2 linked regions of the Homo sapiens genome follow. The protein of the gene in region 2 purifies or fractionates together with the protein of the main gene of each other region. This does not show direct contact. Each region holds a gene or a part of one and is shown on either strand. Other genes may lie near its edges.

The links. Proteins that work in one complex are often made in the same cells at the same time.
Region 1: the proteins of TLE3 (region 2) and MYH2 purify together in Homo sapiens (affinity purification with mass spectrometry; 2 studies listed by BioGRID and IntAct, with this or other methods). This does not show direct contact.

What each region holds. Positions count from the first base shown.
Region 1 is NC_000017.11:10,546,859-10,551,137, forward strand, and holds the start of MYH2 (myosin-2), read right to left. Parts: upstream 2,801-4,279; 5' UTR 2,778-2,800; exon of another isoform or gene 2,701-2,777; intron 2,560-2,700; 5' UTR 2,517-2,559; intron 1,083-2,516; 5' UTR 1,063-1,082; coding exon 859-1,062; intron 761-858; coding exon 617-760; intron 1-616. UniProt on the Homo sapiens protein: Myosins are actin-based motor molecules with ATPase activity essential for muscle contraction.
Region 2 is NC_000015.10:70,050,104-70,052,917, forward strand, and holds part of TLE3 (transducin-like enhancer protein 3), read right to left. Parts: intron 2,422-2,814; coding exon 2,271-2,421; intron 1,365-2,270; coding exon 1,288-1,364; intron 245-1,287; coding exon of another isoform or gene 182-244; exon of another isoform or gene 108-181; intron 102-107; coding exon 1-101. UniProt on the Homo sapiens protein: Transcriptional corepressor that binds to a number of transcription factors. Inhibits the transcriptional activation mediated by CTNNB1 and TCF family members in Wnt signaling.

The DNA of each region.
Region 1 (4,279 bases), on a different chromosome or scaffold from region 2:
CATTTGAGCCCAGGAGTTCGAGACCAGTCTGGGCAACATAGTGAAACTCTGTCTCTGCTAAAAAAAATACGAAAAAAAAAAAAATAGCCGGGCATGGTGGCACATGCCTGTAATCCCAGCTACTCTGGAGGCTGAGGCACAAGAATCGCTTGAACCCACGAGGCAGAGGTTGCAGTGAGCCGAGATCGCACCACTGCACTCCAGCCTGGGACACAGAGCAAGACTCTGTCTCAAAAAAAAATTAAAATAGTTTAAAGTGTTAAAACATGTTTATCTTTTCACTCTGGATGATTCTGCGGCTGGAGTGGGGAAAAGGAATGGGGAAAATTACCTGTGATTGAAATATAAGTAGTAACTGCTCAAATGCCTATTGAAGGGTTTCTGGGCAAACCTAGTCAACATGGACAGCGGCCTTCCCCAGCTTTGGATGGGAAAACAAGGAAGTGCTGGCTGTTGAGCTGTGCTTTACGATAGCAATCATGAAGCCTTTTAACTAGTTATGCTGCAATGAAAGTGAAATGGGTCACTACCTGTGACCTATTTATGCTCAGTGGAAGAAGCAGGATGGTAGGGTACATGAGGATGATTATACAGAGCACTGGCAGGGGACACTCACGTAGATCATCCAGGCTGCATAACGTTCTTTGAGGTTGTACAGCACAGCAGGCTCATGCAGATGAGTCATCATGGCCATATCCTCGATCTTGTCATATTTGGGAGGGTTCATGGGGAAGACCTGATCATCCTTCACTGTCAGAGTCTGGTAAACAGGAAAGATAACCGTTTACATTAATTGAGTGACCAAACAACAACAACAAAAATCAATAAAATGTGGCAAGCTCCTGGGATTCTACTCACCGCTCCTCCCTCAGTCTTCACCGTCACTTTTCCTCCTTCTCTGCTCTGGATGGTCCCTTTGACAAAGGATTCTTTGGGCTCCGCCACAAAGACAGATGTTTTGGCATCAAAGGGCCTATTCTGGGCCTCAATGCGCTCCCTTTCAGACTTTCGGAGGAAAGGAGCAGCCTCCCCAAAAACAGCCAATTCTGAGTCTGAACTCATGGCTGCTGAACTCAGAGGTCCTAAAGGAGATAAAACTTTCACATTAGAGAGTCTGGATTGCCATGTATACCAATAAATCTTAATATTTATTGTATTTCATAGGCCCAGTTGGAAATTCCACTAGACAGGTCTACTGTTCACCATACTATAGTTACTGAGACAAACATAATCACAAGAACGAAAATGCATCAGGTGGTCTCTGTGTACCCAATGCCGTATTTAGGGCTTTGCATCCACTGTCTTATTTCATCCTCCAGGACTCACATTCTCATTGGGAACTGAATTACAGTCCAGTGCTGCTGTCAAGTAGCTTGTGACCTTGGGTATGTCACTTGATGTTTTTGAGCCTAAGTGACTCCATCTTTAGAATAGGGATTATAAATTCTGCCTTTCTAAATTCACAGCCCATGATATATGTGAAGATACTTTGAAAAAGAGGTTTAAATGATGACTGAGAAAGTAATTTGAAATTGTTCAGGCCACCATTTATATATGAGATGTCATGAATTATCATGTCACAAAATTCCATGTCTTGAATGTAATGTAGAAGAACTTTATTTCCTCCTTTACCTGTTCAGCCAGATTTGTTGAAGTTCAGTGGCTTATTGGAGATTATAATTTTGTTTACCTTTTTTTCTTTTAGGTTAGGTGCTTAGTATAGTTTCTCTGACATAATTTTTTGCATATTAAATACAGTTCATCAGTTTAACCCCCTTAAACTAATTAGGGATAAAAACAGTAGCCAACGTTAACCTCATTCTTCTACATCTAAGGGCTCCCTTTACTATTCCAAATTTTCCTTTGAAGCATGCAGGCCCTGTTTGCTCCGTTCTATGTGATCTGTAGGTTGCCAGTGGTATCAGTAGAATGAAAGGTTTGGCAAATAATTCTACCGCAGTCATTACATGATCAAATTACTTGAAACTCATTTGAATCGTCTCTTCTAGTCTCTCCCTTTAGAAATGCAGTAAGTAGTGGGAGGGCAGATTAATACCTCTATTATATATAAGAAAAATGCCACAGCACTCGGCATTGTGTAAGGTGACTTTTTACAAGGGCTTTAAGAAGTTTAAAGAAAGGATTGTCTTACTTCCATTTTACATTGTTGGACATTATGTTTACTAAATGAATTCTAACAGCAGGATACATTTTTATCAAATTTGAGATTTTTAGCCAGGGAATCTGAGGGTAGACTCTTTTTTTCCTGCACAGACAATATATTTATTCAAAGCGATTCCCCTGCTCAAATGTCACCCCACCAATGCTTGAGCCGTAAATGAGGATGTGTGCATTGTCCTGAAAGGACAGTCCTCCCTTTCTCACCGCTTTCCTGAAGCACAGTTGTTAAAGGGTATTTACTGAGACAAGCACTTTCTGAAAGGTTGCTAAGTGACAGAAATCCATCCCAGAGCCTCTTGCATTCTCCTCCAGGAACTGGTTAGTCCAAATCTTACCTTGTTAGCAAGTGAGAAGATGTAGCCTGGGAGTGAGACAGTTCTATAAAAGAAAAGGGAAAAGCACTTGATTAGTTGACCAAAAAGAGGGGGAAAAAATCCCATTTATGGCATGGCTTGCTATTGTAAACAGAAGTAACAAAATTCATAGAGGTAAAACGTGCAGTTCCAGAAGGAGCAGTACCAGAACTAGCAGCTGCTGCTGACACTGGGCGGTGTGACCAGTGTCCCTCTTGAAAGGCCCGTCCTGCTCCCACTTACCTTGGAGCTTTTTAAAGCAGGACGAGTCAGCCTCATTCCAAGGGCTCTTTTATATGGATAGCTATGGAAACAATGCAGCTGCCTCTTCTTTCTTAAGTCAAAAGGAATTGTTTGGCAAAATACCTCTTGGCAATCTAGCGTCCCCGCATAATTCTCATTCATATTAAGAATGGTTGGATATAATTAGAAATATTTTTCTTATTGAGTATGTGGATAAATCTCCTATGGATAATTTGAGAAGATGATCTGAAAGAGTCAAGCTGGTGGATAAAGGCAGTGGCTGGGCAGCCAGGATACCTGGCTTCCCTCGGAACTTCTTTTTGGCTTTGCTGGGCACAGCATTCGGGCTTGCCTCGCATCACTTTCGCATATTTCACGTGTTAAGTCACATAAATAAAATACAAATATGTATTTTAATTTTGTGACAGTTAATTTTTACCTGTTGGTCCTTTCTTTCCAGCCCTGCAAAATTAAGCGATGTGCCTTCAACAACTTAAAGAGACAGAAGGTCCTCTCTGTTATTCCAATATTCCTGTAGTTTCAGGAATTTCCTTGCTCGCTCACCTTTTTGCTTTTGCCAAAGTTGTTCCCTCTACTTAGCACACCATTTCCTGTCCCCCTACCCATTTGACTTGCCTGAAATAAAAAAGGTTGAATATTTTCTAGTAGCAGAGGTGTTTTTAGAGAGTACTTTTCAACATTTTTTCGTGTCATAGCCCGCTGAGAAAAAAATGACAATATTAGTGTAGCATGCTAGAGTAATGTGGAAGGGATTTGTCTATATCTGTAAAGGGCTTGGGGAGAATATTTTTAATTTTTTTACATTCCTTTATGTAATATAAATATAATAACTATGATACACATAGCATTAAGGAAAATATTAAATACTGAATATGTCGGAAACTTACAAATAATATCTTCTTGAAAATCCTAAGGAAAAATTTGAGCTATATCCTACAAATAAAACTTGTTTGTTTCTGACTTTATTCTTGAAATATGACACAAATTTCCAGATCAAATTTTCAAAAATGATACAAACAGTATCTGTGTTCTTGATAATTACCATAGCGGGGATTTTTGTCCAAGAAGGAGGGATGAAAATGGAAAACCAAGTAATTTACAACTGTTGGAGTATTTTAAAAATTCACCAGTTCTTCTTTCTCCTTCATTGAAAAATATAATGTTGAATATTCTCGTACAGTGAAAATAAGTTTTTAATCCATTTAAACTCTCTCTTTCATATCAAATATTTCAAAGGATAATGAAGCTCTAATCTTCAAAAACTTCATGGGTTAAAGGAGTCATCAGCATTGGTCAAAGGGCACACCAGTCACAAATACACACAAGTACCTGATCTATTCAAAGTCTAAGGTTTGGAGCTATTACTGTGGGCTACCTCTTCCAGTACAACCTACTTAGCCTTCTGGCACCTTTACTCTGGCTGGATGCTCTCTGGGCTGCATGCCTTGTCCCAGGCATCCTGGAACACCAACCCTCCCAGC
Region 2 (2,814 bases):
ATGACCTCATAAACTGTGGCCTTCTTGTCACCAGAGCCTGTTACAATGTATTTGTCATCCGCTGAAATGTCACAACTCAAGACAGACGAGGATTCTTTAGACTGGAGGAGGAAGACGAGGAGAAGCAGCAGGAAGGCGTGGGGTGCAGGGAGAAAAAAGACAGGAATTCATTTTCCAGTGCTCAACACCATCTCGGTTCTCTCGGCAACAATTGCCCTCCTCTGCCCCTCTCTGATGCTCCGACCTGGAGCACAGTGCGGTGAAGAGGAGGTGGGGGAGGCTTTAAAGCACCCATGAAGCATTTTCAGGTAGAGCTCCCCTCCCACCTGCTTTTCCATAAGGAAAAGCTCAGTAACAGTCTCCCACGTGATCTTTACAGTAAGTCATAATGATCAGAACAGGACGCTTTAGCAAGAGCTTCTCCTCCGAGTTTACAAATAGGAAGAAGCATTTCCAAGCTAGGAGCTGGCGTCAGCAGCTCAGGCCCACAGCCTGATGAGTTAGGAAAAGGATTGCCACCTGATGTTTGAAGCATGTGCTGTAACTAGAGACCCTAACAATGAGGTTTGACACGCTGCACACCAGACATTTCAGCCTGGGTCCAGAAAGCGGCATGTTGGCTGAGGGAGTGAGAGAGAATGCAAGTGTGTGTGTGGAAGCGCAAGAGAGAGAGAGGAAGAAAGTGTGTGGGGGAGACCAAGTGTGCGTGAGTAAATGAGTGTGAGTTTGATCGTGTATGGGAAAGAGTGCACGTGTGTGTGTGCACACGTGTGTGTGCCAATCAGTGCAGTATGGCAGGCCCCAGATCCTGGTAGATTATAAAAAGCCTCTTCCTTTCCTCCTCTCTTTCCTGTCCATGTCCCTGCTGGTGCTGAATGCAGGTGGAAACACTCACTCACTTGAGGAGGCAACACTGCTCTGGGCAAGGCTGCCGGGTGCCCAGGTGCCCAGCGCACCTCCCGCAGGTGCTCAGCATCCAGCCCAGAGCAAAAACACTTATGCTATTCCTCACTCTCCAAATCCGACAAGCGCCCCGGCTTAGAAGCCCTTGCCCTCGGGGGTCAGAAGCCATCAGTAGCAGATTGTGTGTCCTGCTGAAGTCCCCAGGTCCTTGGGAGAACCCAATCTTGCTCCCCTATCAGGTAGGGGTGGGGAGGGGACCAGGGCAGGTCTGATCCTGGCTCCAGGCTCCTCCTGTTCTTCCTGCTGCTATCCTCACTCCCATCACCATCACCAAGTTTCAACTCTGGGTAGAACCCAGAGGAGGACTCAGACGGTGGGCAGTACCTGGAATATGCTGGCTCCATAAGGCGTCCTCCAGGCGTTGAGAAGGTTATCTTTCCCAGTGCTCACGAACCACTTGCCTGCAGGTGGGAGGCAAAGGCATGATCAGGTTGTAGCTCACTGCCCTCTAAAGCAAGACCTGCCCTAGACATGGCCAGCTGCCATAGAAAAGCAGTGAGAACTGCTAACTAGTATAACTCTCCAATTTCGAGAGGCATTTTGCAAATGGGACATGCGGACACCTGGAGAAGGCCTTTCTCTGAAATCCAGGGGGAGGGCTGGGCGGGGCTAGGATGGGAAAAGGTAGGATTTGAAGTTCATTGCAGTGATAACGCTGCCTCAAAAGATTCTTGTTAAAGCCACTAAGGTTGACTGGCCTTTCTAAATTCTACTACTGGAAGGCAACAGGAAATACTGAAAATATCCAAGCCCTGGGAGTCTGGAGACCTGGCTGAAGACAGCAGTCAGTGGGCGACCTTCCTCCAAGCAGGAACTCGGCCAGGGCTCTACAAGTGTTAAAGCCCTTATGCTCCCTGAAAGCCATGAGCACCATGCTATTCCCGACCAGAGAGAAAAATCCACTAGAGTTCAGAGAGGGTGAGATGTTCAAGACTGCACAGCTTGTCAGTGGAGGAGCAGACATTCCCATCCAAGGCTCTCAGATGCCAAAGCAAGTGGTTGTAACCATGGAGAGGAACTGCCTGCACTGCTACTGTCCTGTTCCTTTGCCCCAAGCCTGCAAGAACTGGCTCTGGCCTAGTGTCCTGAGAGTTCAATAACTCATGGTGACATCTGCATCCGAGAAACAAGGATGTGGAACAAGATCACTTAAGGGTGTTGAAGGGGCACCAGCTCAGGGGTCAGGAGGCCTGGTTCCAGGGCCTAGCTTATTCTATAAGCTTTGGGCCCCTCTTCTGTCCTGTTGGGCCAGGCTGCCCTGGGTTCCCCACCCCACTCCATCAGGCCTGGGCCCATCCAAGGCTCACCGCAGTAGGCGAACTTGAGGGAGAGCACGCAGCTCTCGTGCAGGTGCAGCTGGTACTTGTCAGGCTTGGTGTGGTGCAGCACCTCCACGTTGCTGCTCTCCATGCCCACAGCCAGCCACTCCCCAGTGGGGCAGTAGCCCAGCGAGAAGATCTGCAGGTGGTGGGAGGGCAGATGGACTGAGCTCAGCATTCTCTGCCCTCAAGAGGAGGGCGGCTCCCAAAGGTGCTGCTCAGGTCCTCTGAGGCTCAGGGTCCCTCCCCACCCACCCAATAACCCAGGAGTATGGGAGGTCATTTTCCATCCCCATTTTATAGGTGAGAAAGCACAGACATTTTGCATTCAGTTACTCTGTCTCTGAGACTTTCATCTTTCCTTAAGAAAAAAGTGAGTTAAAAAAAAAAAACTAAAATATTAAAAATTTAAGATTAAAATATTAAAGTGAGGAATGCAAATAAGAAATAATAATCCCTGGCATTTACTGAATGCTTTCTGTGAGTCGGGTTTATGGCTACGCCTTTTAGAGGGATCATTTCAGGTGCCCAC